7 separate regions of the Homo sapiens genome follow, and regions 1, 2, 3, 4, 5 and 6 are each reported to be linked to region 7. Evidence: microRNA targets listed by miRTarBase, many of them from high-throughput screens and not tested one by one. Region 7 holds a microRNA gene; each other region holds the end of a gene's coding sequence.
What was found. The annotated mature microRNA hsa-miR-6720-5p reads UUCCAGCCCUGGUAGGCGCCGCG and lies in region 7 at 2,720-2,742, opposite strand. An mRNA with a match to its seed (bases 2 to 7 or 8) in the 3' UTR can be bound and repressed. Matches are read on the target gene's strand: a 7mer-m8 pairs with bases 2 to 8, a 7mer-A1 pairs with bases 2 to 7 and ends in A, and an 8mer does both.

Region 1 (4,076 bases), not on the chromosome of region 7:
CCACGCACAGAGACCATAAGAGAGAAAGAGATGAACCTGGAGAGTGAGAGACTCAGAGAGAGTGACAGAGACCACTAGAAAGCAGTGAGCAGAGCGATGAGGGGAGGTTGGGGAGCTGGAAAGACAGGTTCAGTGAGGGAGGAAGACAGGGACGCCAAGGGCTCAGGGAGAAGGCCGGGAGGAGCAAGGGGGCTCGAGGAGTGGCCAGAGCCCCTTGCTGCCCTCTAGAGGCCCCGGCTGAGCAGAGGGTCTGTTGTCCACCCCACCCCCACTCCCACCCAGCCCCATCCCCAGCCAGCTGGCTTCCCAGAGGAGGCAACAGCCCCGATTAGTCTTTGTTCTCTTTGGGACACAGGGGCTGCCCTCTTGCCACTGGCTGGGCTCCCACCTCCACCAAGCGCCTGTCCTCCCTCTTCCACCAGGGTGGTGGTTTGACGCCTGTGGCCTGTCAAACCTCAACGGCGTCTACTACCACGCTCCCGACAACAAGTACAAGATGGACGGCATCCGCTGGCACTACTTCAAGGGCCCCAGCTACTCACTGCGTGCCTCTCGCATGATGATACGGCCTTTGGACATCTAACGAGCAGCTGTGCCAGAGGCTGGACCACACAGGAGAAGCTCGGACTTGGCACTCCTGGACAACCTGGACCCAGATGCAAGACACTGTGCCACCGCCTTCCCTGACACCCTGGGCTTCCTGAGCCAGCCCTCCTTGACCCAGAAGTCCAGAAGGGTCATCTGCCCCCCAACTCCCCTCCGTCTGTGACATGGAGGGTGTTCGGGGCCCATCCCTCTGATGTAGTCCTCGCCCCTCTTCTCTCCCTCCCCCTTCAGGGGCTCCCTGCCTGAGGGTCACAGTACCTTGAATGGGCTGAGAACAGACCAAACTTGATTCCCATGACCAATGGTGGGGTTGCAGGCAGGTGGGAATGTATTTGCACATCGGAAGCTGCCCAGATGGCCCAGGTTCTCTCCCTTGGATTGGCAAGAAGGCCATCTCCCATTCTAAGCTCCTGTTCCAAGATTTTCTAGTCTTGAGATGTCCTTGAACTTTCTTTTCAAGTCTGAAGGGGCTGCATCCACCCCTTAGTGGGTGGGTTAATCATTATTTCCCCTTCACACTTCACCACTTCTAGGTTCTAATGACCCTAGATCTCAGGGTCTTTAGACTTCACCACTTCTAGGCTTTACCACTTCACCACTTCTAGGCTCCAATGTTTGGAGCTCAGGGTCTTTAGGAGACCCAAAAGGACATGCTCCTTCACCTCCAGCATGTCCTAGAGGATGTGTCACAGGGAATAACTATGGCTTGTCTCTAAAAGTACCTATGAGCAATGAGAAAAGGAAACAGCAGGTTAAGTCAAAGTGAACAGGCACTCTTCACTGCAGGACTGATCAGAGCCTTTAATATGGCCAAGTGCCTTGTGACTACCCATGAAGGGGCTAGAGTGGGCAGCTTTCTCCAAATTTACTTATTTGAAAATGGGCTCGGTTTGTCCCAGAGCATCTCACAGGACTGTAGATGCTCTTGGACAAAGCTAGTGCTCCCCTGGCATAAGGAGGAGCCCTACGACCCCATCCCCACCCCAGCTATACTCACCCTTTTTGGCTACAAGGGCCACAGTGACAGCCTCAAACAACCTCTAAAAACAACTGGAAATAACCTTTCAGTTAAAACAGATACCATCCCTGAAGAAGGGTCTAGAACTAGGTCCCTGTCTGTGTTATAGGCTCATGTCCTCCAAGGCTCCTTCAAGTCCCAGGAAGCTGATCTCTACCTGGGTGGCTTCCCTTAGGACTCCCTGTAACCTCAACTCCCCCAGGCTCAATTACAGGGACTGTTAGGCAGGACATCTGTCTCCAAGTCCAGATCCTCTCTGCCTCCAAGCCCTAACCCCTAGCCTCCCTCCCTTCCCCATCCAGCAGTGATGCTGCCTCTGTGGTGGTAGGTGGGGAGCTGCAGGGGAGGAGATAAGGCCTCTGCCTGAGTTTGGGAGACCAGGGCCCTCATAGCTTCTTTCAGAGGATGGAGTCAGAAAGGATCCACAGCTACTCTGTCACCTGCCCCCATCACTGTGTCATGCTGTCTGCCCTGTTGTCATCAGCCAACACCCAGGCATAGCCAGGAGCCCACCTGCCCTACCGCCAGGATACACCTCTGTCCTCAGAAGGTTTTCTCCTGGATGAGACTGAGCCAATGGGAATGGGACCCCTTCATCCCCCTGGCTCGCCCCAGCCCTGAGTCCCACTCTCAGCCGATCCCTGAGTAAACCCAGCACAGACTGACTTTGATCTCATTCCTGGGAATTAGCACTCTTCCCCTTCAAGACTCAAAGGACATGGTTGCTAATGGTGGCATTTCAGGCATGATGGGAAATCTTTAGGGGCAGATTGCTGCCCAGAGAGCTCAAATCGCCTTAAGCAGCATTTGCCCAGCAGACCTTTATTTAGCCTCTACTGTGTGCAGTGTGGTGTGGTGGGCAGGGCTTTGGAGTCGGACAAACCTGCTCCAGCTCTGACACTTTGGTCCAGTGGCTCAGCCTCTCAAGGCACCAGTTATCTTCACATCATCAAAGCCTCAGTTTTCCCATCTGTAAAATGGAGATGATAATATTCCTTCCTGGCTGGGCTATGGCAAGGAGGAAATGAGACCATGTATGTCATCTTCTTAATAGAGCCTGGCATGAAGCAGGTGCCTAATAAATGTTTGTCCTCAAAGAGGAGAATGGGGTGAGGAAGGCATTCCCCAGCACATGCCGCCCCTTCTCCTGCACTCAGGTGAGGAAAAGGCATTTTATTTTTGTATCCACATCATTTATTTTTCTATTGTAGTTTCTAGGCTGACTGCAAGCTAGAGAGGAGACAGGGCAAAGCTGTGAGGCCCAGGGACAGAACTCCTCTGGGTGGGTTGAAGGCCCAAGTCCCTCTCTACTCCCATTTTATAAGGGGGCAGGAAGCTGATTTGAGTTATCCTCAGACACCTGTTCTTTATGTAATTTTATTTTATTTTTTTGAGACAGAGTCTCACTCTGTCACCCAGGCTGGAGTGCAGTGGCATGATCTCAGATCACTGCAATCTCTGCCTCCTGGTTCAAGTGATTCTCCTACCTCAGCCTCCTGAGTAATGGGATTACAGACGCCTACCACCACGCCCGGAAAACTTTTGTATTTTTAGTAGAAACGGGTTTTCACCATGTTGGCCAGGCTGGTCTCAAACTCCTGGCCTCATGTGATCCACCTGCCTCAGCCTCCCAAAGTGCTGGGATTACAGGCATGAGCCACCATACCCAGCCTCAGACACCTGTTCTTAAATATTCATCCTTCTTTCTTACCTTCCTTCCTCTTCCATGCCAGGACTCAGGTATAAGGGATAGAAATTCTAGCCCTAAGGAATAAATTGACTCACATAACTGGAAAGTCTAAGGGTAAAGGCAAGTGAGGTTAGATCCAGAGGCTCAAATGATGTCAGCTCCACCTCTCAGCCCCTCCATCTGCCCCGTTGACTTCATTCTCAGCCAGGATCTTTCCTCACAAGAAGGCTCTGGCAGCCCCAGGCTCATGTCCTCCCAGCTCAGCATCCCTGACCCGGGGAGCTCCCTCGTCTCCATGATTCCAGTAAAGGAATGATTTTCTGCAGCCAGGATTGGTCTTGTGTCCATCCCTATGCTTATCACTCTTACTCTGCTTGACCAGACCTCGGTCTCATGATCATGCCTGGCACCAGCAGTGGGGTCAGTGACACCCAAGTCATGACTTCAGGAAACAGGGATGCTAGGCAGCCTTCCCTCGTTCCCTGTCCCTGGCTCTCATCTCTCTTCTCTCCACCTCTGTGCCCTCTCTCGGCCTCCCTGTCCCCAGGTCCTGACCCCAGGATCCAGTTCATCCCAGATTGCCTCTGACTATCAAGGGCACAGCTGTGTCCTGCCCAGGAATATTAGACCCTGTTATCAGTCTGGCTCTGCCATTGGATCAGAGCCCCTGGCCCTCTCTGAACCTCAGTTTCCCATGGACAGAGCACCTAGCAACCTCTGAAAGCCCTTCTGACAGTGAGGCTGACTCACAATGGCTGCAGA
Region 2 (4,076 bases), not on the chromosome of region 7:
AACTGATTGGGCTAGAAATTTTACAATCTGTGGCTGAATTGATGAGGAAATCATATTCATTGTCCTAATGCTCCATTTTATTTATTATAAGGTTAAAGTCTCTCTCTGTCTCCCTTTTCCTGGTACAATAAATTACCATGCACCTACTATCTAAATATTTCTTATATTTATAAGTACTCTGAGTAATTCTAACCAAGAAACTAGCTATGTGGTTGTAAGTAGTTCAGAAACTGGACCTGCAGGACCAACAAAAGCAAGGTTTTCTGTTCTACCTAGCAAAATGTGGGGAAAGTGATTAAAGTACATCCCAGCCAAAGTCCCTGAGAAAGCACTTAAAGTCAAAAGTTGGAAACACTAAATAAAATTGCTAATTTGCTAAAAACCAGGTAAGAGCAGGAGCCGCTGATGACAGAATCAACCAACAGCCTAGTTAGCTAGTTTAGTGTCATGATTTTTTTTCTTCTGATATAGAGATGGGCTAGGCCAAATACAATAGCCAGGATAGGAAGTTATGTAATGTATAGTTATATAACATATATTTAAATATACATGTCTATATTCATACAATTGTATATGAAATGAGTGATGAAAATATATATGTAGCAGAGTAAATTTTAAATGTATAGATTGTTAGGACATAGTGTACTAATTTGTTTGACAAATAAATTATAATATATGGGTGTGTACTTGCAATTAAAAGGCAGCTATTAACAATTCCAATTTAAGGAAATAAAACCAGAGTGTGGGAACAATCATTTTTGGTCTTAAGATTTTGTACCGTTATGATAACTAATGAGCATTGAATTCTTTATGTACTAAAATCTTTACGAGTACAACAGCCAGGTTTCATTATTCAGAATAATATATTTTACTTCTTATAATGTAAAAAATATAATCGTTTGAGTGGTTTTCAGCATGATCTGTTAATTTTGAATACAGAGAATGAACAAAGCAGGTAAATATATGTATATGCTGAATAATGTAATTCCATATACAATTCACAGTTAGATGCACTTAATTGTGGAAAATAAAGGAAGACAATAACATCAAGATCTTTTTCCAAAACACGGTAAAAATAACGTTCACATGCATTAAACATTTCAAGCCATCTCAGTATATGTCTTTCTTGAGTAAGTAGTGAACCAATGGACCAGTGGTTATTGTTGGAGAAAACAATTAGGCAACTCATCAATGCGCTATTTATACAATCTTAGTGACTATTTACCACTTCACCTAAGTAGACTTTCCCACTCATTTGAAGCTATTGCTATCTATAAATAAATGGCAACAGGAAATGTTTCACAAGGGCCTTTGATTTCCAAAACTCTCAAATTCCACAGCAAAGACTCAATTTAAGGCAATTATTTATGCACTGAATATTTGAATGAAGATGTATTATTTTCCTTAAGTGAAAAAAGCTGATACTATTTTGTAATGATAAAATTTGTATACCATAGTAGAAAATGATTTGCAATTATGTGTTAGGACTTTTCATATTCCATATTGAAACATAGTGATTCTGTAGCTGGCATCAGCTGTACCCTGACTTCACATGAATGGCCTGGAGGGGATCATATTTTTAAACAGGAAATCAGTGTGAATTAGCTGAGTAATTAACATTCAGTGTACAGTGAGCATTCTTAACTAAATCAAAGTAGTCATGAAAGAAAGTACTGTTGGTAAATCCAAAAACATACATCAAAATTAAATGGTGAGGTTGAAGGTTGTAGTTAAGTACCAACTAGTGTGAGTTCTGGGAGCATTTTGAAATGGTGGAGGAATGTACTAAATTTCTGAGGAATTAATACTGATGGGAAGGATGCAGTAAAGAGTAAAAACGGGGGCATTGTGGTTTATACCTGTAATCCCAGCACTTTGGGAGGCTGGGGCTGGAAGATTGCTTGAGCCCAGGTGTTCAAGACAAGCCTAGGTAACGTGGTGAAACTCGTCTCTACAAAAATTACATAAATTAGCTGGTGTGGTGGCCTGCACCTCTAGTCCCAGCTAGGTGGGAGGTTTCAGTGTCCTGTGATTGCACCACTGCACTCCAGCCTGGGTGACAGAGTGGGACCCTGTCTAAAAAAACATAACAAAACAAAACAAAATGAAAAAAAAAAAAAAACAAGAAAAAAGAAAAGAAAAAGAAAAAAGTAAAAAGCCTAGGGATTGGGTGAACTTTTTCGAAAAAAAAAAAAAAAAGCATAAAGATTTGGAGACTGTTTAGATGTGGTATATGAGGGAAAACAGGAAATCTAAATTGAGTTCAAAATTTCAATCCTGAAGAACAGGCAGAATTATACTATCATTGTTAGCGAGAAGTCATGAAGCTATTCATGAAGCTATTCATGAAGCTAGTCATGAAGCTAGTCATACCAAATGAATGAAATGGTTGTTTCTAAATCAGTTCCAATTCCAGTGTCAGATTTGAGGTGAACACTACAGAAACTGACATGTCTTGGAGGTTGTTGAGGTTGTTGAGGTTGTTGAGATGCCAGACTGCACATGGCTCAGCAATAAATGAAAGATACAGGTCTGGATATAGTGAATTAACTCCAGCAAAATATTAAATCCCCAAGAATGACTAGCACATGAATTTTCTAGTAGACTCTTCCCTGCTGATAATTTTCTCTTCAACAGAAATAACCTACTTTTTAAAGCATGAATTATTAGTTGCATTGTGTGCAAATCCTAATGATAACTGAATAGATTTCAGAAGGTTTAAATATTTTTGTTATTTTTAGTAAGAAAAAATATTGGGAAGCATAGTATTAAGAAGTACATATAAATAATTCCCTCTCGATTGCCATAAAACTTCTTGTTTCCATAAAGGTTCTCCTTATCATGAGTTGTATTTAACACACAATTATTCAGTCATCTTGACTGATAGAATGGGCTATGGTCAAACAAAAAAAAAAGTGAAACCAATCCAAATCAGGCAGGCACATGATGCAGAGTTGACTGTTCAAAGACAGTTTAGCTCAATATAGATGGAAGTACTGGTTAGTACAAAAGGAGAAAAACTATGTCTAAGGAGGGAAGCACATAATAGAATTCTATTATTACAATAGAATACTATAAATACAAAATTGGATAAACTTTATCAGAAGCAGGTGTTTGTCACCATTTTATATGTGAAACTCAGGAAGTTCTTGATTTTTTAAGAGCTGTATTCCTTAATCTGGTTACAGGCTATAAAGGAGATAATCATTTACATGATCATATTCTCAAACAGATGGTCACCAAATGGAATCAAAGGACTGATTTGATGTAGCCGGTAGTATGATAATTTGTAGTTAAATGAAAATACAGATAGATCCAGAAAATAAGTAATTTCCCAGTAGCCAGTTAATAAATTACAGACCTAGAATAAGCAATTTAACAAGATTAGAAAAGCAACTCTGATACAAACGTGTTGATAACAAGTACAATAAGCATAGAAAATTTAATGAACATATTAATTAAAAGCATTTTAGAAGAAAAATAGAAAATCATAGTGAAACATTTCATATAAAATATTTAGTAGAATTAATGTTACATTGCTATAACAAATTCACATATTTTTAACAAAAATTTCTTCATATGCTATTTTCACTCTCTGCTTCTTTCTTTTTCTTTTGGTTTTAATTAGGCCTCCTTTTGATATTCTTTGGATGAAACCTATAAGAGGAAGAGGAATAAATTAATGTGTGATAAAATAACACAATGAAATGTTTTATCTAAAATCTTCTCAAAGTAACTTTTAATATTTAAATCCAAAAGATGTTATTGATTTAAAAGCCTTTAATTTGTCCATGTATTCGTGTAGAACAATTTATTTTTAAGGACGTTACTTTGCATATATGAGTTAATAAAAATGGATAAGCATGCCGTTCATTTTTATTATTAGTTCCTCTTCTGTTACAAATCCATGCTTGCTTTATTTTTAAATAGTAGAAATGTGGTTGTATGTGGTTGATTAAGTTACAGATAGTTTTTATTTGCATTTTTATACTCTTCTTAGTCTTTTATAAACATGCATTACTTTTATATTCAGAAGACATTAATAAATATGTTAAAATTTTGTGCATTACAAGAAA
Region 3 (4,076 bases), not on the chromosome of region 7:
CAAGCGCCTGTCGGCCGTGGTGTGCGCCCTGCTGTGGGTCCTGTCCCTCCTGGTCACCTGCCTGCACAACTACTTCTGCGTGTTCCTGGGCCGCGGGGCCCCCGGCGCGGCCTGCAGGCACATGGACATCTTCCTGGGCATCCTCCTGTTCCTGCTCTGCTGCCCGCTCATGGTGCTGCCCTGCCTGGCCCTCATCCTGCACGTGGAGTGCCGGGCCCGACGGCGCCAGCGCTCTGCCAAGCTCAACCACGTCATCCTGGCCATGGTCTCCGTCTTCCTGGTGTCCTCCATCTACTTAGGGATCGACTGGTTCCTCTTCTGGGTCTTCCAGATCCCGGCCCCCTTCCCCGAGTACGTCACTGACCTGTGCATCTGCATCAACAGCAGCGCCAAGCCCATCGTCTACTTCCTGGCCGGGAGGGACAAGTCGCAGCGGCTGTGGGAGCCGCTCAGGGTGGTCTTCCAGCGGGCCCTGCGGGACGGCGCTGAGCTGGGGGAGGCCGGGGGCAGCACGCCCAACACAGTCACCATGGAGATGCAGTGTCCCCCGGGGAACGCCTCCTGAGACTCCAGCGCCTGGAGGAGGCAGGGGCAGGAAGCGGCCTCCAAGACCCTTCGCCTTGGGACAGGAATGGGCACCTGCTTCTGAGTCCATACAGGAGAAGAAAGATCTGTTTCCTCTCCTCGGGCCTCCTTCTCCCTGGGCTGGGGACTCCAGGGGTGGCTGGGAGACTGGGCAGCCACCAGCAAACAGACCCTGTGGCCCCTGCCCGGCTCCCCCACCCATTCTGCTCCCCTAGAGACCTCTTGTACAGAAGTTGCCCCCAGGTGGTGGGGCCCCTCCTTGCCCTAGGCTGGTTGGTAAAAGAGAGGAGGTCAACACCCAGCCTAGCCACCTCTGCCTCTTGGGTCAGCCCTCCTTGACTGTGTCCCAGCCAGCACCAGGCCAGCAGCCTCATCCCTGCCATTCAGGGCTGTTCCAGAGATTCGATCCTCTTAAGGCATTATCAGTGAGCAAATGTGAAGGAAATGGTGTCTGGAAGAAAGTTCTGGTTCACATGCCTTGTAGCTAAGTCTTTCTGCAAACAACCTCCCTTCCCCCCGTCGAGTCATTTGGTGACTTTGATGGGGGGATTTCTGGTTATGTCAAGGCTCTGGAGACAGGAAGGGCCTTTGGCCGCCTTGGGTAGTTGACCTGCCTTTTCTGACTCCGGGACGAGCCAGTCCTAGGCTGCCTCCGGGAGCACTTGAGGTATCCCGCAGGCCATGAGGACCCACTGGGCAGCTCCTGGACAGCCTCTTGGCTCCAGCCCCCACCCGAAAGTGGACACTGGCTCCGCCCTGGCCACCTGGGGACTGGCACTGTGGTGCACAGTGGCCCAATGTGGCCAACGGAAGTTTTATAAAAGACAAAATGTATATCAATAAACATTTTATAACTTGCAGCCAGGAAGGCTTCATGCCCACAGTCCTACCCTGGGTCTCTGTTTCCGACAGTGAGGACGCCCAAGGGCACAGAGTCCCGGGACGGGTGGCACCCCCCGCCAGCTCTCCCGCACACTTTGCTCTTTGCCTCTGCTCTCAGGCCTCCTCCTGGGGCTGGGTCTGCACACACCCGTGTTCCCGCTCCTGTGGCTTGTCCACTCCCTGCCAGAGGGAGCCGTGGTCAGCCAGGCTGTCCTGTGCCGGCGTATCCCAGTGCCCCTTCTCAGCTCGGAGGCCCCCACGGCCTCTGGGAGCCACAGCTCTCACCTCCTCCATGCCAGGCTCTGGGCCGGCCACCATGGTCCTGCCTGTGTCCACCGGAGGCTCCGTGGAGTGGATTGCTGCCTCTCCTCCTGTTGCCCCCGTTCAGGATGCCCCTCTCTGTCTTGAGATCCCTGAGCCAGCCTCCCAGTGCCCAGACATCTCTCTACAACCCAGCGATAGGCTGGGAGCCCTCCCAAGATGACAGCCCAGCCAGCGCCACGCTAGAAGGGTTCCTGCCTGGCCCTTTTGCCTCTGGTCAGCCCCCAGAAGGGCCCCATCCTGGGTTCCTGGTGTGCAACCTAGGACCCTGGCTCCTTTGAGACAAGCCTTAAGGCAAGCCTGCTCACCCCATGGTCCCATGGAGAGAGATCATGGCAGAGGTGTTGGTGCCCCCAGTCAGGAAACGTGGCTGACAGAGTTGGGCCCCTCGTCTGCAGAGCAGAGCCAGGAGCAGGCAGGCGGGCAGCACTCCGAGCTCCAGGTGGGAATGAGTAGAGGCGTGGGCAGTACCACCAGGTTCACGCACCCAGCCACCTGGAACGTGGCCTTCTAACTGCAGGCCCTGGAGCCTGCTCAGCCTGCCCCTGGTGAAGTGGTCCAGCCCTCAGTGGGCTGACCCCCCAGTTCTGTGTCCCTGATGATCCACTGCCCGGCCAACCTGACCTCCACTGCCCTCCTGCCCCTGCTCCTCAGCCCACTGCTCCTCCATGCTCCCCTTTCTAACAATCCTGGTCAGGTCCTCTCAGCAAGACCACCGCTCTAGGAAAAGAGGGGATCTCATGTGGCCCAGATGTCGTAGTTCCAGGACCTCTAGGTGATGAAGGTTGCATGTCCCCACCCGCTCCCTCCCAGTGCCCAGAACGAGCTCTGCCATCCTCCAAGTCCCACCCTCCCCAGCGCTGGTCAGAGGATCCCAGAAGAGCAGAGCTGGAGACCACCATGTCCAACAGGTCATTTCCAGCGACTCAGAGAAGCCAGGTGGGGCCTTGAGCAGACACACCAGGAGGCAGGGCTAGGACCTCGTCCAGTGGCGAAAGCTCCCACCAGCACGGGCATCCTAGCTACACAAGTGGGCAGAAGCACGTCCCTCTCCTGAAGGCAGCTGGGTGGGGGGTCCATCTGGGGTCCTGGCTCCTCCTCAGGGCCCAGAGCATCCCAGTTCCTGGGAATTCATCTCTTCCTTAGGAGTCCCCACCCCAGGACTCCAGCCCTGAGTCCTCGTGGGGAGCTGCTGACCTAGAAGGAAGGGGCCTCCCTGCCTGGATGCTGCTGCAACAGCTCAGAGCCAGGGCCGGTGAGGGGGTGGACAGCCTCACGCAGTAGCAGGGCCTGGAGGTCAGGAATAGGCTGGGTCCGACTCTAGGAGGAGGCATCTGCCCTGATGGATCCTAAGGCGGGAGGGGCAGAGGTGAACCCCAGGAACTAGGCCTCCCCCAACCCGTGGCCCTTCTCAGGTGCAGGTGTTTGCAGTCTTGCTAGGGAACAAGCTTTCTTCCCCTCCATCCCCCCGCAAAGCCCCAGGATTCCCACACCTCCCTGGACCACCTCGCTCTCTGTGCTAATGGAGGGAGACTGCACAGATGATGAGATGAGCGGGAACTGCCCGCTCTCCTCCACTTTCCTCCTCCTTCCTTTGGTATTTAATTATTAAAGTGGGCTTGGGAGGAGCTGAGGGCTGCGGGGGAGATTTCCATCCCACAGCTCTGGGAAAAGGATCCACAGCAGGTCACAGAATGGAGAGTGGGGCATGGGACCAGAGCATCTGGGCTGCCCTGGTTGTTACAAAGCCGACTTAGTAACAACCATGTGGTATGTGGGAAGGGTGGGGTGAAGGGGCAGGGGTGGGGCATCAGGCAGGGCAGAACTCTCCACTTTTCCGTGCTGTCTGCCACCCACTATTTCTATAAAAATAAGCTGCTCTTTTAGATTATGCAAGGGATAAGCAAGGCCAAATTTGGAAAGTCAAGAGCAAGCCTCAGGGAGGCAGAGGGCTGCCACCTATAAGCCATGGGACCTCAGTCTTGCTGTGCCTCACTTTCCTTGGATAAGTCAGCTACAGCACCGACCTCCAGGAGTTGGTGCAGTGGCCTGGGGTGGCAGCCGGTGTGCCTGATTGCCCTGGTCGGGCGTTCAGGGCAGGGAGCAGAATGGCCACTGCAGAAGGGATGTGCCTGTGAGTGGTTTGTCCCCAGCACCAATCTGCTGTTTGCGGACATACTATGGGCAGTGGGTGCTGGCCAAGAGCTGCACGTAGGTTTTCTGTTGACTGTCCATGCAGGGCTACATGGCCCATACTGTCAGCCCCAGCTGTGGAAGTGGGGGCTCAT
Region 4 (4,000 bases), not on the chromosome of region 7:
AGAGGTAGATCGGTTAGTCCCAAAAAGCCAGCCAGTCAACATTCAGAGGAACATTTGGATAAGATTCCTAGTCCTCTAAAAAATAACCCCAAAAGAAGACCCAGAGATCAATCCCTCAGCCCCAGCAAAGGGGAAAATAAAAGTTGTCAGGTCAGCACCAGGGCAGGCTCTGGACAAGATCAGTGCAGAAAAAGCAGAGGTCGGTCGGCCAGCCCAAAAAAGCAGCAAAAAATTGAAGGAAGCAAAGCTCCATCAAATGCTGAGGCCAAATTATTAGAGGGTAAGAGTCGAAGAATAGCAGGCTATACGGGCAGTAATGCTGAGCAGATCCCAGATGGGAAGGAAAAATCAGACGTCATCAGGAAAGATGCAAAGCAGAATCAGTTGGAAAAAAGCAGAACAAGGTCTCCAGAGAAAAAAATCAAAAGAATGGTTGAGAAATCTCTTCCATCCAAAATGACTAATAAGACTACAAGTAAAGAAGTATCTGAAAATGAAAAAGGAAAGAAAGTAACCACAGGAGAAACAAGTTCTAGTAACGATAAAATAGGAGAAAATGTCCAGCTATCAGAAAAGAGGCTGAAGCAAGAACCTGAAGAGAAGGTAGTTTCAAACAAAACAGAAGATCACAAAGGGAAAGAACTAGAGGCAGCTGACAAAAACAAAGAGACTGGAAGGTTCAAACCGGAAAGCAGTTCTCCAGTTAAGAAAACACTGATAACTCCAGGGCCCTGGAAGGTTCCAAGTGGAAATAAAGTCACAGGCACTATTGGTATGGCTGAGAAACGGCAGTAACCTTTAGTATAAAACAAAGAAAAACAAGTTGTAATCTTTTCTTACAGCAGCATTTTTCCAGAAAAAGCCTTTTTTTTTTTTTCAGATATTCTGAAACAGATAAGTACATGTTAATGTGAGCCTCAAGTTACCTAGGCTGCATGAAGGGCCTTTAGGATTGCTAAGAACCAACTGTCCCCCTGGCCGGCTGCCCTCCCTCGCTCTCAGGAAGGAGCTGCATCCACATGCTCATCTGACCCGCCCTGCTCAGGCTGCCCAGCTCGTCTTCATGAGTGTCTGAACAAATGACATATGTTGATATTAACAATGTGGTCACAACTCACTTTGTATTTGTGCCAAGTTATCTACTGTATCATGTCTGTTTTTATCCTTTTTGTTCAGCTGTTTCCACAGTAATGAAAAAGTTAGGTTTGGCTTGGAAGTTGATGATCTCAATAGCATGTTGCATGTTTACAGAGAGAAATATGTGAGTCCTTGCAGAAGAAGAGACTGTTAACTCATCGTTAAAGATGGCCGTTGTCTCTTCTAACAGCTACTGATGATGTCCCACTTTAAAAATAAAACCCCCAAACATCACTACTTTAAGGAAAAAAAAAATGTAGTCCAATATTGATGCTTTCTTATGGCTTTTTATTTTAATTTGGCTGGATAAGTTGTTTCAAATAACTGTTAAAGATATTACTTACAATTGAATGTTTGAAATAAGAAAGTACTTTAAGCAATAGAGTTCATCTCCTGCTGTGTTATCCAACCTCGATGTATACTTACAGCATCTCAGGTCACCCTTTTTATTTCAGTTATTTAATTATGAAACCATAAAGAAGCATGTGGAAATAGTGTTTATTGCTCTTTGAAGAAAAACCACCAACTATTTCTGGATATTTTGGCTGTACCTACTACTAAAGTCATTAGTCTTTAATACATAATACATATTTGAAAAGTAAACATATTATATAGATTATGTGAGGGACTTAATCATGAAACCAGTTTCACAGTCCAAGTACCAACTCTTCTGGTAGCAGGTGCACAAGCTTGGGTGTTTAAAAACAACCTGTGTAGGGTATGCCCAGCAAATGAGGACAAATGTGTAGACAGTACTTACTGGATCTTATTTAACTTTTAGCTACATTAACTAACTTTCTTATTTAAAAACAAGAAAGGGAGACTAAACATCTGCTTAACTTGTACACATTTTCAGAATTCTTTTTAAAAGTCTAGTTAAAGATGTTTCTTAGAAGTTGGAGACTGTTAACAACTTCCATAAAATAGATCCAGGTTTTTCAGTTCCCTGAAGCAGCATTCAGTAGCATCTATATAAATAAAGGCACCTTCTGAGAATAAAACTATTTTATGGAGTGTGTGAACACACTTGTTCTGTCACCTGGGTTCATCTTGTTGTGAAGCACATTAGGTCCAGGTCCTTCCCTCTGGGAGTCTGACTGTGAAACTCTTTAACCCAACAACTCAATTAGCCCCTGTAGATAAGACATGCTTCCCAGAGTGAGATTTTTGAAATCCCCTTTTCATCCAGAACTATATTTACCCACCTATTGTAACTATTCAAATAGAGCAAAATTAGGAGGCTTGATAAATACTAAGAATTTAGTACCACAGAAATTATTTATTATTTTCCCTGTAGTCCACAATTAGTGATAACGAATCCTATTTTTGTTAACTGTGACATAACTTTGATGTCATATGTTGTCCTATGTGGTTCTTCCTAAGTAAACTCTGTACTGATTATATACTGACTTAGCAATGTGGCCTTGGAATGCTGAGCAAAATGTGGATGTACTGGTTGTAAATGTTTATATATTGTACAGTACCTTTATATATACACTTGAGGTTCTGATTAGAGAAAGATCTGTAAATTGCTCATTATTTTTTATATAGATATTTAAAAAAAACAGTTTATGGCCTGCATTTCTTTTACTGTCACATTGGTTTAATGTTGCTTTCTAATGGTGGAGCTAGGTCCCATCATAGTCTGAGTCCTCAAATAGATTTTGTCCCTCCAAGTAACAAACTTTCAAAGTCCTAAAATCAGGAAGAGTCTTATAATAATGATTTTACCTCTATAGGTATACTTTTATTTATTTATAAATAGAGTTTGAAATTCTTTAGAGTTGAATATCATTATAACCATTTTTCATCTTTCATTGTAAAGAAAATAGCTTTGGATAAATAATTTGCTACTGAAAATCCTTTCTTAACACTGTTGGGGAGAGAAGAGGAGTTTCTCATTGGAAATTCAGCTACTAGACATTTATAATGGATATAGTAATATCAGTCCAGTTACTACAAGGTCACAAAATCCCATTTCATCAGACTAATGATTCACATTATCTTTAAAGATCATTTATTTATTTAGTTTTATACTTACTTTTAGAATGTTTTGACTTAACTCGGTATGAAAAGTGCCTAAAACCTACTTCAAGACCACGGTTAATTTTATACTCTTTTAAGGTGAAATATAAATTCCCACTTACCATTGCAAGAACGCATACTAAAAATAAACCCACGGTCGGGCACAGTGGCTCATGCCTGTAATCCCAACACTTTGGGAGGCCAATGCAGGCAGATCATTTGAGGTCAGAAGTTCGAGACCAGCCTGGCCAACATGGTGAAACCCTGTCTGTCTCTACTAAAAATACAAAAATTAGCCAGGCATGGCGGCAGGTGCCTGTAATCCCAGCTACTCAGGAGGCTGAGACAGGAGAATCGCTTGAACCCGGGAGGCGGAGGTTGCAGTGAGCTGACATCACACCACTGCACTCCAGTCTGGCTGACAGATGATGAGACTCCATCTCAAAAAAAAAAAAAAAGTATACCCAAACTTCTAGTTAGTTCCCAGACCCCACAGTGAAGATGTGCCATAGCAGAGGCTGCAGAAACAAACAGGCAGTAAAATCGTTTTGTTGTTTTAGTGAACATATTTTCTTACTGGTCACAACAGGGAGAAAAGCTTTGAGATATTATTACATTGTCTCCCTAGTGAGATTAGAAGGCTAAGATCCTATGATATTGTCTTTAGTTACATCAGTCTTGGACCAGGCAGCTTTTGAACAGGAACAACTCTTATTTCAGAAGTCTTGGATCCAGAAAGGCACTTGGCTTTTTATTCTACATGAGAATACCTTGTTACTTCCCTTTTTAATAGCAAGATTTAAAAGAGAAATAAATGTAATCATGTAGAAGTAAAACC
Region 5 (4,076 bases), not on the chromosome of region 7:
ATTGGTAAGAGGAAAGGGAGGCCTGTTTACTTCCATTTCTCTCTAACTTCAGGGGAGCAGGACACCGGCTTATTGACTGAGAGTTTCTGGAAATATTTGCAAGTCAGTATAGGCCCTCAGCCCACAGGAAACCCAGAATTGACGATAAAGCCTGTCATAGTAAGGGGGTGCTGAAGGAGAACAGATGCCAGAGGGACAGCAAGACCTCATCTTCCATTCACCATTAGAGGGTGGGTGCTTCTAGAGGGAAGGAGGGAACTTAGCAAACCTCTGTATTTTGTACTAAACAGTATCCTGAATGAAGACACAATCAATATAATGTAGGTTTGGGTAATTAATTCATTTTATTTAACTAATTAAGGAATCAAAATGGGTTAGTTATCTTTGTTTGTTTGAGGCAGAGTCTTGCTATCACCCAGGCTGGAATGCAGAGGCAAGAATATGGCTCACTGCAGCCTCAACCTCTTGGGCTCAAGTGATCCTCCCACCTCAGCCTCCCGAGTAGCTGGAACTACAGGCAGGCACCACCATGTCTAGCTAATTTTTGTATTTTTTGTAGAGATGGGTTTTACCATGTTGCCCAGGCTGGTCTTGAACCCCTGGGCTGAAGTCATCTGCCTGCCGTGGCCTCCCACAGAGCTGGGATTATAGGCGTGAGCCACTGTACCTGGCCTTGGTTATCTTTATATCTACTTTTTCATCCTATCCTAATCTTGAAAAAATTTCCTCATATTTAGCATCATCGAGTGTATGAGATAAGACAATTAGTCAACATTTCCTGGCAACTAATGTGAGAAAACAAAACCATAAATGGAAAGAAAAAAATTAACATTCAATAAAAAATTTTTCATTGATTCATTTGCAAAAATTTCTTAAAACAAGAAATAAACAGAAAAGTTACGTATCTAAATATGAGACAATCTACAGTGCATTAATCATTCTTGATTTGGGAGAGTATGTAAGTGTGACTGGCTGATTGAGGTATCCAGCTTGTTGGTGTGTAAACAAGCAAGAGCTGCCTTAAGGCCCAGTGTGGTGGCTCACGCCTGTAATTCCAGCACTTTGGGAGGCCACAGCAGGTGGATCACCTGAGGTCAGAAGTTCGAGACCAGCCTAACCAACATGGTGAAACCCCATCTCTACTAAAAATACAAAATTACCATGGTAGCAGGCGCCTGTAATCTCAGCTACTTGGGAGGCGAAGGCAGGAGAATTGCTTGAACTTGGGAGGTGGAGGTTGCAGTGAGCCAAGATCATGCCATTGCACTCCAGCCTGGGTGACAAGACCAAAGCTCCATCTCAAAAAATAAAAAAGAGCTGGCTTAGTTTATTCCAGGACCTGCCCCCAACTGATACGTTGTCCCTCCCACCCTTACTGGGTGACAGATGTCTTCATAACTTCTAATTTAGATCTCATAACTTTTCATCCCCTCTTAGTTATGAGAATTCTGTCATGCCAATGTTTAAGATTTTGTTCAGTCCATTTAAGCTTCATTCTCACATATGATACAAACTTCTCCTTACTTGACTATGGGATTGTCCTTTCGATGCGCTTGCTGCTGCCCTGGCTAACCCTGCATGGTCATCAGTACCAGACTGTCATGGTTCCCTCTGTGTGGCATGAATTTAAATGCTGGCCACTTGGTGGAGTGATGGTCTGTTTTCACTCACGACACTTCTGACACCAGATGTGTGGATTTTCTCCCCCCAACAGCTGACCAATTTTCCAGCTTTCTGGACACCAGTTGGGTGCCCTGCAATTCAATTCTTACACTAACCTGTCTCTCCTTATCTACAATAGATTGACTTATTTAACCCAAATATACATATAAAGTCGTTTTAGAATTGCTAAGCCATGCCTCTGTGAGATACAAATTTACCAACCAGAGTGCAGTTTTTGTATACAGTTCTTTGTGTCCTTATCTACAGTTATAAGTCAAAACATTGTTTTCCAACTTTGTCAGTTCTTTTTTCCCCATCCCTTTCAGTGAGTTGATATCATACATTTATAATACAATTAGATTCATTTGCCACAATTTGCATACCATCCTGGGTTCCCTTGACAGTCTGTTCATTTTTAAAAAATTTGCATACAATAAAAGCCCCTTTGTCTAGTGTACAGTTTTTTTTTTTTTTTTTTTTTTTTGAGACAGAGTCTTTCTCTGTTGCCCAGGCTGGAATGCAGTCCGCCTTCCTGGTTCAAGTGATTCTCCTGCCTCAGCCTCCTAGTAGCTGGGACTACAGGCGCACACCACCATGCCAAGCTAATTTTTGTAGTTTTACAAATATGAGAGACAGGGTTTACAAATTACAAATTAGAGACAGGTTTACAAATGTTAGAGACAGTAGAGACAGGGTTTCACCATGTTGTCCAGGACAGTCTTGATCTCCTGACCTTGTGTTCCCCTGCCTCGGCCCCGCAAAGTGCTGGGATTACGGGTGTGAGCCACCGCGCCTGGCCATGTGTATAGTTCTTGTGTTTGCAAATGGATATTGTCATGTATCCACCACACAGTACCATACAGAACAGCTCCATCAGCCTATTCCCTTTGCAGCCCCTTTGTAGCAAACTTCCCTCCTTTTCTCAAACCTGACAACAACTGATCTGTTCTTCATCCCTATAGTTTTGCCTTTTCCAGAATGTCATATAAATAGAATCGCCCAACATGTAGACTTTTAGGCCTAGCTTCTTTCACTTAGCAAAATGGATTTAAGATATGTCTATATTATTGTGTGAACCAAGAGTTCATTTTTTACTGTTGAGTATGGATAAACTCAAGGAATGGATATCAACAGCTTATCCAATCACCTGTTGAAGGATATCTGGGTTATTTCTAGTTTTTGGTAATTATGAATGAAGCTGCTATAAACAGTCATGTGCGAGTTTTTGTGTGAACATAAGTTTTCAGTTCACTTGCGTCAATTTCTAGTAGTGAAATGGCTGGGCCATATGATAAGTTATGCTTATAAGAAACTGCTGAAAAGTTTTTCAAAGCTGCCCTGACGCTTTGCAATCCCATCAGCCACCAGTGAGAGTTCCTGTTCTTCTTCATCCTTACCTACATTTGGTTGCCCACACTTCTTTTTTGTTTGTTTTTTTTTTTGAGAGGGAGTCTCGCTCTGTCACCAGGCTGGAGTACAGTGGCACAATCTCGGCTTGCTGCAACCTCCACCTCCCGGGTTCAAGCGATTCTCCTGCTTCAGCCTCCTGAGTAGCTGGGATTACAGGGGCACACCACCACGCCTGGCTAATTTTTGTATTTTTAGTAAAGATGGGTCATGTTGGCCAGGCTGGTCTAGAACTCCTGGCACCAAGTGATCTGCCCTCCTCGGCCTACCAAAATGCTGGGATTACAGGCATGAGCCACTGCACCTGGCCTGCCTACACTCTTTAAAATGGAAATTGCCCACCCCACTCCACTCCAACTTCTTCCTTCCTTTTGACCTCTGACTGGATTATACAATAATCTATACTCTTGCTTTGCAGCCTGTTGGTATTAATGAAGGTAATAATCTTAGACTACTGTGCACTACTTTCCTGCTTTCTTCACAGTTCTAGGAAGCAGTTTCAGCAAACATTCTTAGGCTGGTACAGGAGATAACCACACTCTGCTTGAGAAGAATTCCCTTCTGGAATTCCCAAACCTCTGCTTTTGTGTGGCCTCTTAGTTCACTGCTCATCTCAGCCTCTTTTTAATCTAACCAGTGAATCCACTGAAGCACTAAGGTGATCACGGGTCTGCACTAGACTCTGCAGTAGTCAATCCTATGGGATAGACTACTCAATGTGGCTTTATGGCTGGGTACCTGGGTCTTCATTCATCAGGAAGGAGCTGAGTGCCAGGCCCCTGCTCAGAGTCCCTGCCTCCTAACTTGGCAGTTAGCACATTTTCATAGTCACTGGAGTCCTCATTTGACATCTCTTCTCTATGTTTCATCTGACTGTCCTCACTCTGTGTGAATGGCTGAAAGTCTGCATAATCCCCTGAAGCAAGGAATGTCCTTTTGACACATTGGACATGGGTCCCGGGATCATCTGTCTTGTCCTCGACATGACCTATGTTTGAGGATGGCAC
Region 6 (4,063 bases), not on the chromosome of region 7:
GAATGGCGTGAACCCAGGAGGCGGAGCTTGTAGTGAGCCAAGATCACGCCACTGCACTCCAGCCTGGGTGACAGAGCGAGACTCCGTCTCAAAAAATTAAAAAAAAATTTTTTTTTTAAATGACAGCACCTATCCTGGTGGTGACGAGAATTTTGCCATCCTCTAAGCAGACTTCAGTGAGGTGCACTGTCCCAAATGATGATACACCTGCAGAGGAGACGCAGCACGCAGAGTGGAAAGTGTGTGTGTTCCTGGGGCCACCCCTATTCACTCACAGTGGTTAACCTGCACTAACAAGCACTGCCAGGTAGAAACACTTCCTAGTCTACATGTGGACTGTAGCCTGCACAGACCTAGGGGGACTGACCAAAGGGGGGCGAATGAGGGAATAAAAGATAAGATACAAAAGAGTGTATTTGTGCTCACGCACACCCCCTGGCGCAGGCCGACTGTGGCTCTGCCTACAGCGCTTCCTCCTGAGCTGCAGGAGGGCCATGTCTTGTGGTCGTGTTTGCTGCAGCTTTGCCGTCTGGATGGAGCCTGGCACTGAGCTGGTTGAGGCCGTCTGCAGGCCTTTACTGGGCTCTTCCCTTGGAAGCTTCTTACTGATGCCAGGACCTCCCAGCAGGTGACCCTCAGCCCCACAGATCACAGAATTCCACACTCTTAGCTCCTAGAACTTTTCTCCCTCTTGTGTGAGAATGCACAGACCACACACTCTTTCTTTGTTGCAGAGGTTCAGCCACCTTTTCTAACCTGAGACTCTGGGTGACATAACTCCTGATAGGTGATAGCTCTTTGTAACAATCACCAGCACCTTGCCCAGCCAAGGGCCCGGAAGCAAGAAAAAAACAACCAAAACACCATGTCACAGCCAGGAGAGCCTTGCACGCTTCACACACAGCTCAACAAGCCTGGGTTTCCGGTGTCTCAACTCCTGCAGAAATGAAGCCTCAAGTCAGGAAGGGTGAGGAGGGGCACGGACAAGGCCCAACGGCAGCAGGATGGCGCAGAAAGCCTGAGGGACACAAAACCTTCTAGGCCTAGTCGTAGGCAGTGGGGCAGCACCGTGGAGCCACGTGGTAGAGGGATAGCCGCCCTGTGTGTCCAGGGCAAGGTGGCACAGCATGCCTGGACCGCTGAGAAGGAAGGACTTCCCTCAAGAATGTGTCTTGCGCCGGGTGCAGGGGCTCACGCCTGTAATCCCAGCACTTCAGGAGGCCAGGGTGGGTGGATCGCCTGAGCCCAGGAGTTTGAGACCAACCTGGACAACATAGTGAGACCATCTCTACAAACATAAAAATAAATTAGCTAGGCATGGTGGCACATGCCCGGGGTCTCAGTTACTGCAGAGGCTGAGGCAGGAGAATCACTTAAACCCAGGAGTTCAAGGCTGCGGTGAGCTGAGATCACACCACTGCACTCCAGCCTGGATGACAGAACAAGACCCTGTCTTAAAAAACAGACAGACAACAAAAGAATGTGTCTCTGAAAAAGGCCCACGTCTGTGGCTGTTAAACAGAGCAGCTCGTCTCCTGAGGCTGGAGCGATGGAGCTGGAAGGGCCTCACAGCTGTCCGGGCCAGGCTCCTTGCTGCACAGGTGGGATCTGCTGGCTCCAGAGAGTTCTTCAGACCCTGCAAGAGGGATCTGAGAAGAGGGACCAGGCCCCCCGGTTCCCAGGCCCTGACTCTCCCACTGTTTGTCCTTCCCTGATCAGAGCAGATAAACATCACCGTACCATAGATGGGACTTCTAGAAATTCCCCACACAGGACTGGGTTAATTCTAAGGTATTGCTTTAGCTCTGTGAAGAAAATGTAGTCAATTTGTAAAATTGAAGTCAATTTGTAAAATGACTCAATTTGTAAATGAAGTCAATTTGTAAAATATCACAGACTCCTTATTTTTATCCTTATTTTCAGCATCCTCAATGAGTGCAAACTTTCTTGACATGTCTATTTTTGAAAAATCTTTATTGCTTTTCCTGATTGTACAACAAATGTAAAAATTCAAATATTACAAAATGACTTAATTTAAAAAGTACATTTTAACATGTTATAAAATAAATGCCCATTTCAAAAAATTCAAGTATCATAAAATACATGACGTAGAAAATGAGCCCTCTGTAATCTAGCCCAACCCCCGTATCCCCCAGGATTACTGCTGTTCAGATCCGCGTGTTTCCTTCCAGACCGTCTCTGTGCACCCGCCACCCACACGGCTGACATGAGCTCCATATGATCCGAGATGATAGTAACGCTGACCAACGGAGCAGGGTTCAGCTGCCGATGCCCTGAACAGCTTCCAGTTTCTACACAGAAACGCTTTCCTCATAAAAGCCTGAAACTGTGACACAGTTTTGCACTATGTAAATGTATCAGGTTGAATCATGAAATAAATGATCGCTCACCATTTTTGGCCTAGAAAACAGCAGTTTCACGTGGTTCAACGTGATAGCTGTTCAACAGACATTGGGGGGTTTCCTATTTCTTGCCATTATAAACAATTCAGCAGGTCAGGTGCAGTGGCTCATGCCTGTAATCCCAGCACTTTGGGAGACCGAGGCGGGCAGATCACCTGAGGTCAGGAGTTCGAGAACAGCCTGGCCAACATGGTGAAACCCCGTTTCTACTAAACATACAAAAATTAGCTGGCCCTGGTGGTAGGTGCCTGTAATCCCAGCTACTTGGGAGGCTGAGGAAGGAGAACCACTTGAACCTGAGAGGCGGAGGTTGCAGTGAGCCAAGATTGCATCACTGCACTCCAGCCTGAGCGACAGAGTGAGACCCTGTCTCAAACAAACAAAAAAAAAAATCAGCAGTGAATGTCCTTGTATGTTCTTTACGGAGTATAAACATCGTACCCCCAAAGCATGACACCTCTTTTGGGCATTTAGAAGAGTCAAGAGGATGGAGCTGCCCATTTGCCATGGAAAGGGAGACCCAGCAGAGAGCTGATACATAAACAACTTGTCCCTCAAGCAAGGTGGCCAACTTCAGCCATGACACCATTTGAGTATGGTGACCACATTACATGAGCAAACCCAACGCTGGTGAAACCAGAGAACAGAAGAATTCCTCAGCCCAGAGACAATTCTTATCCCTACTGACCCGTATGACCAGGTACTCACAGACATCCAACGAGTACCCCAGAGCTGTCCTCTGGAAGTTGGGCTGTCAGAAGGTATAAGAAATGATTCAGGCTGGGCGCAGTGGCTCACACCTGTCATCCCAGCACTTTGGGAGGCTGAGGTGGGCGGATCACCTGAGGTCAGGAGTTTGAGACCAGCCTGACCAACATGGTGAAACCCCGTCTCTACTAAAAATACAAACATTAGCCGGGCGTGGTGGCACATGCCTGTAATCCCAGCTACTCGGGAGGCTGAGCCGAGATCGCGCCACTACACTCCAGCCTGGGCAACAAAAGTGAAACTCCATCTACAAAACAAAACAAAACAACAAAAAAAACCCCAACAATTCAGAAATGTAATGAAATCAGATTTGGAGGAAACATTTTTTAAGGTTTTTTCCAGGAGCTACTGGAGTGACCAAAAAAACGAAAAACAAAAAAACAAAAAAGGCACCTGTTAAAATGATGCCCACGTCAGGCCTCAAACAAAGACCAGGACGTGGTGTGTACGTGTCACTGGCGTTTCCGCACAGGCTGCTTCCGCTTCAACCTTGTCTGGGGTTTGTAGATTCTGCTTGGGTCACAGTTGAGCTTGTGGGTGGTTTTCTTATGGCAGACAATGTGCACTAGTTTTAGGTTCTCTGAGGTAAAAAGCAGGCCATAAAAATACTCCCAGTCCACTTCTCTTCCATCTTGTTCCTTAATTGCTTCCACCAGTGTAGGAATGATGGTGCGTTTCTTTTCTATTCTGCAAAGTAAGGTTAGAGACATCATTTTCTGTGGTCACAGTGCCACAGGCAACAGGTCATAGCAGTGTATTGCAGTCACAGCTCTTCACAAATTCCCCTAAGTGCTATCACGGACACACGGCCGCACCTACTGGCCAGGTTTGTTGAGCAGAGCCTGATGCAAGCAGCCTGGCTCCTCTTACTT
Region 7 (4,076 bases):
AACTGCGAAGCCCTACCCCAACCCAATCAAAACATCCCACCCGGAAAAGAGCGACTTGTTTCTTTTTTCTATTGGAAATGAGTGGTAAACTGAGTTCGGTTTGGCGGTGTTTTCTTAGCTGACTCTCGGCTACAATCAAGCCATTTTCGGACACATTCCCATGTAGGTACCAGGGGTGCTCTGGAGGAAGCTGTCGACGCCTGTTCAGCTAATTTAGGTTTTCTTTGTCTAATTACTGTGGAGCTTAGGGAGAAGGAGCCGGCTCAGGGCAGTAAACTGACACTCGGTCTCTGTGTGTGGTATCCAGGCAGGGTTTGATGGAAAAAGCCTGCTTCCACTCAACCTCAGGTCACTGTCTGGGGCCAGCCCCGGCCCACCCCCCTCCCACATACCCCTCCCCTCCCCACCCGCCCTCTCTGCATCTACAGCCCCACCAGCACACTCAGCCAGGAGCAGTCCCCCGGCACTCCAGGGGCACACAGGGCTCCTGCCGCCCCAGGGGGCCTGCCTAGGCTGTGCGGCTGTGAAGGCTCTTTGCCTGGTGTCTTCCTCCTGATTACTGCACAACCTCCCTTTCTCCTGCCTCCTGCAACTCCCCAGGCTCCCCAGCAGGCACACCCGTGCACCTCGGTCCTTTCAGCCTAGACGCAGCGGGGTGCCCAGCTCTACCTCCTGTTTGGTCCGCTGGTCTGCAGCACCTTCTTTCTGGGCCTCCCCCTTCAGCCCTTGGGAGGCCCCGCCAGCTCCGGCCTCCTGCTCTCCTCCTCCCTCTCCCAGCTCCTATCCCTGGTCGGACTACATTTCCCTGCACGTGTAATCCAATAACTAACTGTCGGGTCTCATTGGAAGTGATTGCTCCCGAGGGCACATCTCTCTCAGAGCCTGACTCTTACTTAGGGAGGAATTAGCCACAACTGGGGAGAAGTGTTCTCGGACAGGAGTTAGCTGAGACCTGGCACAGTTTTGGGTGGGCAATGTTAAGACGGAGGATGTAAACCTAGTGACAGCTGCACACCCCTTCAGGACTGACTATAAATATAGCCATCTCGCTTATCTCAGGGTCTTTCTTTTTCTTTCTCTTTCTTTCTTTTCTTCCTTCCTTCCTTTTTCTTTTGCACTTTTTTCTTACAGAACACTAACTGGGGTGCGGGGGTGGGGGGAAGAAGTGGAAGCAAATGCAACCCTAAGTCCCATGAGATCCAGGTTTCCAGAGTCTTTGAAACTTGGCCTAGGTTTCTCAGTGTAAATCCCTCTGCTCAAAGTTCCGAAAACGTCCACGATCGCCAGCGGCCCGCAACCCTGCGGCGGCCCCCAGTCGCCCTAACAATTGTCGGGGAGCCTGCAGGCCCTGCCAGAAAGAGAGAGGATTGGCACGTTACCTTTGGGCGTCTGGCACCCCGGCGTGTGGCTGAGGGCGGCAAAGTCTAAACGAAGTTGACAGATGGAGTCAGTATCGGCCCTGGGGAGGGCGGCCAGGGAGGCTCCGAGCAGCCGCACCCGCAGCAGCACCACTCGGCCCGGCGGGCCAGGAGGAGGAAGGGGGCGCGGAGGGGCGGGGCTGGGTCCTGGGATGGGACGCGGGGCTTGCTGCGGGGGGCAAACAGAAAGAATATTTCATGAAGTCAGAGGTGGTCGAGTTTTGCGAGGGGTGGGGGTCGTCCCCCTGGCAGAACCGGAGTGAGTCTGTGATCCCTCAATTGGAAAGAGGGTGAGTGAGGGAAAGGGGAGGAGGCCGCGAGAGGAATGAAGAGCGAGGAGACCCTGGAGAGCGGGGAGCGAGATAAGAGAGGGAGGCGGCCGCCAGGTCGGGAGGGGGAGGAGTGAGCGCGGCGGCGCGGAGCGAGGAGGGGGCAGGGCGGGGTGGGGGGGGAGGGAGGGAGGGAGGGAGCGAGGAGGGCGGCCGGGGAGGGCGAGGGAGGGAGGAAGTCCGAGAGACAGAGCGAGGAGCGCTCCTGAAGGGAGACGTCGGGCTCGTCCCCGGGGTCCAGGCCGCGGTCCCACTCGCGGGCGCAGTCGCCCGGCGCCGGCCGCTCGGCCCCGCGGCCTGGGAGGCCGTTGCGCAAGGCAGGGCCCGCGGCTCGGGGAGGGATGCGCCGGGCGTTGCCTCCCGCCCGCCGCCGCCGCCGCCGCCAGAAGCCCCAGAGGAGCTGAGGGAGGCGACGCCGAAGCGCTGGCCCGGAGTGGCCACGGCTGCAGCCCGGGCGGCGGGCTAGGGCGCTCGCAGGGCTTCTGGGCCGACCCCGCTCCGGCGCCTCCGCTTCCCGCCCGGGGCCCGCCCTCGCGGCCCGGCCTCGCTCCCGGGTCCCAGATGACCACCGAGGGCGGGCCGCCGCCGGCCCCGCTCCGCCGCGCGTGCAGCCCGGTCCCCGGCGCGCTCCAGGCCGCCCTGATGAGCCCGCCGCCCGCCGCCGCCGCCGCCGCCGCCGCCGCCCCGGAGACCACCTCCTCCTCCTCGTCGTCGTCCTCCGCCTCCTGCGCCTCGTCCTCGTCCTCCTCCAATTCGGCCAGCGCCCCCTCGGCTGCCTGCAAGAGCGCGGGCGGCGGCGGCGCGGGCGCCGGGAGCGGGGGCGCCAAGAAGGCGAGCTCGGGGCTGCGGCGGCCCGAGAAGCCGCCCTACTCGTACATCGCGCTCATCGTCATGGCCATCCAGAGCTCGCCCAGCAAGCGCCTGACGCTCAGCGAGATCTACCAGTTCCTGCAGGCGCGCTTCCCCTTCTTCCGCGGCGCCTACCAGGGCTGGAAGAACTCGGTGCGCCACAATCTCTCGCTCAACGAGTGCTTCATCAAGCTGCCTAAGGGCCTCGGGCGGCCCGGCAAGGGCCACTACTGGACCATCGACCCGGCCAGCGAGTTCATGTTCGAGGAGGGCTCGTTCCGCCGCCGGCCGCGCGGCTTCAGGCGGAAGTGCCAGGCGCTCAAGCCCATGTACCACCGCGTGGTGAGCGGCTTGGGCTTCGGGGCGTCGCTGCTGCCCCAGGGCTTCGACTTCCAGGCGCCCCCGTCGGCGCCGCTCGGCTGCCACAGCCAGGGCGGCTACGGCGGCCTCGACATGATGCCCGCGGGCTACGACGCCGGCGCGGGCGCCCCCAGCCACGCGCACCCTCACCACCACCACCACCACCACGTCCCGCACATGTCGCCCAACCCGGGTTCCACCTACATGGCCAGCTGCCCGGTGCCCGCGGGACCCGGGGGCGTCGGTGCGGCCGGGGGCGGCGGCGGCGGCGACTACGGGCCGGACAGCAGCAGCAGCCCGGTACCCTCGTCCCCGGCCATGGCGAGCGCCATCGAATGCCACTCGCCCTACACGAGCCCTGCGGCGCACTGGAGCTCGCCTGGCGCCTCGCCTTACCTCAAGCAGCCGCCTGCCCTGACGCCCAGCAGCAACCCCGCCGCCTCGGCAGGCCTGCACTCCAGCATGTCCTCCTACTCGCTGGAGCAGAGCTACTTGCACCAGAACGCTCGCGAGGACCTCTCAGGTAACGCAGCACGCTCCAGCCCAGCCAGCTGGGCGCACCGCTTCTAGGCCTCCAGGGCTGGCGGCCACTGCCACTCCCACAAACAGGGACCCCGAAGCTAGGAGGTCTGAGGGCACTGGGAAAAGCAGATGCTGGGGAAAGCCGGCATCTTATTCGTGGGAGCAGGGATCAGGGTCTTACTGTCCTCCCAGTATCCCTGGCCAGCAGCCGAAGCTTCAGAATTGTCTGGCTGCTGTGAGCGTGGTGTAAAGTCCCCTGCCTTCCTGGGCTCTTTGGGGATCCCTGTGCAGGAGACTGCAGGTCTCCCGTTCAGAGTCTCACTTAGCTTGGAGAGAAGGCATCTGGCCTTTGGGGAACTTGGTCAGGAAGCTGTGTCTAGTTCCTTTTGTCCCTTTTTTTCCTTGCGTTCATTTTGCTGTACTTCTGTCCCGAAGTAAATGTCAGAATCAGATATGTTCTGTATGTTGGGGTGTCTGCAGCGAGATGTTTGCAGCTGGGCAAGTGTTAAGAGGAGGGGGTGGGAGGGACAGAGCTGGATCCCAGGATCTTTCACTAAAGGGACATTTGCCAGTGGAGGGGGTCACCAAACTGTTGGAG

Region 1: miRTarBase lists ANGPT4 as a target of hsa-miR-6720-5p. Seed matches in the 3' UTR shown: 7mer-m8 at 601-607 and 7mer-m8 at 3,043-3,049.
Region 2: miRTarBase lists TFPI as a target of hsa-miR-6720-5p. Seed matches in the 3' UTR shown: 7mer-m8 at 2,047-2,053.
Region 3: the mRNA of MRGPRF is a reported target of hsa-miR-6720-5p. The part of its 3' UTR that is shown has no 7-base or 8-base seed match.
Region 4: miRTarBase lists MAGI3 as a target of hsa-miR-6720-5p. Seed matches in the 3' UTR shown: 7mer-m8 at 1,438-1,444.
Region 5: the mRNA of LAX1 is a reported target of hsa-miR-6720-5p. The part of its 3' UTR that is shown has no 7-base or 8-base seed match.
Region 6: miRTarBase lists DFFB as a target of hsa-miR-6720-5p. Seed matches in the 3' UTR shown: 7mer-m8 at 3,408-3,414 and 7mer-m8 at 2,764-2,770.

The regions. Positions count from the first base shown.
Region 1 is chr20:869,467-873,542 of GRCh38, reverse strand. It overlaps ANGPT4 (angiopoietin 4), which reads left to right. Exons shown (of 9, transcript NM_015985.4): 9 at 423-3,643. The coding sequence ends at 583. It overlaps LOC124904854 (a long non-coding RNA gene), which reads right to left and starts at 2,591. Exons shown (of 3, transcript XR_007067485.1): 1 at 2,508-2,591; 2 at 1-646. RefSeq lists enhancers at 23-523, 524-1,024.
Region 2 is chr2:187,463,386-187,467,461 of GRCh38, forward strand. It overlaps TFPI (tissue factor pathway inhibitor), which reads right to left. Exons shown (of 8, transcript NM_006287.6): 8 at 845-3,657. The coding sequence ends at 3,551. All of the region lies in intron 2 of CALCRL-AS1 (CALCRL and TFPI antisense RNA 1), which reads left to right. Among named protein-coding and RNA genes, the nearest start is that of CALCRL, 17 kb to the left of the region's middle. RefSeq lists a silencer at 1,503-1,703.
Region 3 is chr11:69,001,767-69,005,842 of GRCh38, reverse strand. It overlaps MRGPRF (MAS related GPR family member F), which reads left to right. Exons shown (of 3, transcript NM_145015.5): 3 at 1-1,445. The coding sequence ends at 565. Among named protein-coding and RNA genes, the nearest start is that of MRGPRF-AS1, 8.5 kb to the left of the region's middle. RefSeq lists enhancers at 1,471-1,972, 2,933-3,433.
Region 4 is chr1:113,683,220-113,687,219 of GRCh38, forward strand. MAGI3 (membrane associated guanylate kinase, WW and PDZ domain containing 3) reads left to right here. Exons shown (of 21, transcript NM_001142782.2): 21 at 1-2,704. The coding sequence ends at 795. Among named protein-coding and RNA genes, the nearest start is that of PHTF1, 74 kb to the right of the region's middle.
Region 5 is chr1:203,774,421-203,778,496 of GRCh38, reverse strand. LAX1 (lymphocyte transmembrane adaptor 1) reads right to left here. Exons shown (of 5, transcript NM_017773.4): 5 at 2,125-4,076. The coding sequence ends at 3,816. Among named protein-coding and RNA genes, the nearest start is that of LAX1, 11 kb to the right of the region's middle.
Region 6 is chr1:3,883,322-3,887,384 of GRCh38, reverse strand. It overlaps DFFB (DNA fragmentation factor subunit beta), which reads right to left. Exons shown (of 7, transcript NM_004402.4): 7 at 1,956-3,878. The coding sequence ends at 3,644. Among named protein-coding and RNA genes, the nearest start is that of C1orf174, 15 kb to the left of the region's middle.
Region 7 is chr6:1,387,640-1,391,715 of GRCh38, forward strand. MIR6720 (microRNA 6720) reads right to left here and starts at 2,772; the gene lies at 2,675-2,772. It overlaps FOXF2 (forkhead box F2), which reads left to right and starts at 1,937. Exons shown (of 2, transcript NM_001452.2): 1 at 1,937-3,479. The coding sequence starts at 2,309. It overlaps FOXF2-DT (FOXF2 divergent transcript), which reads right to left and starts at 1,822. Exons shown (of 3, transcript NR_187218.1): 1 at 1,380-1,822. RefSeq lists an enhancer at 3,119-3,984.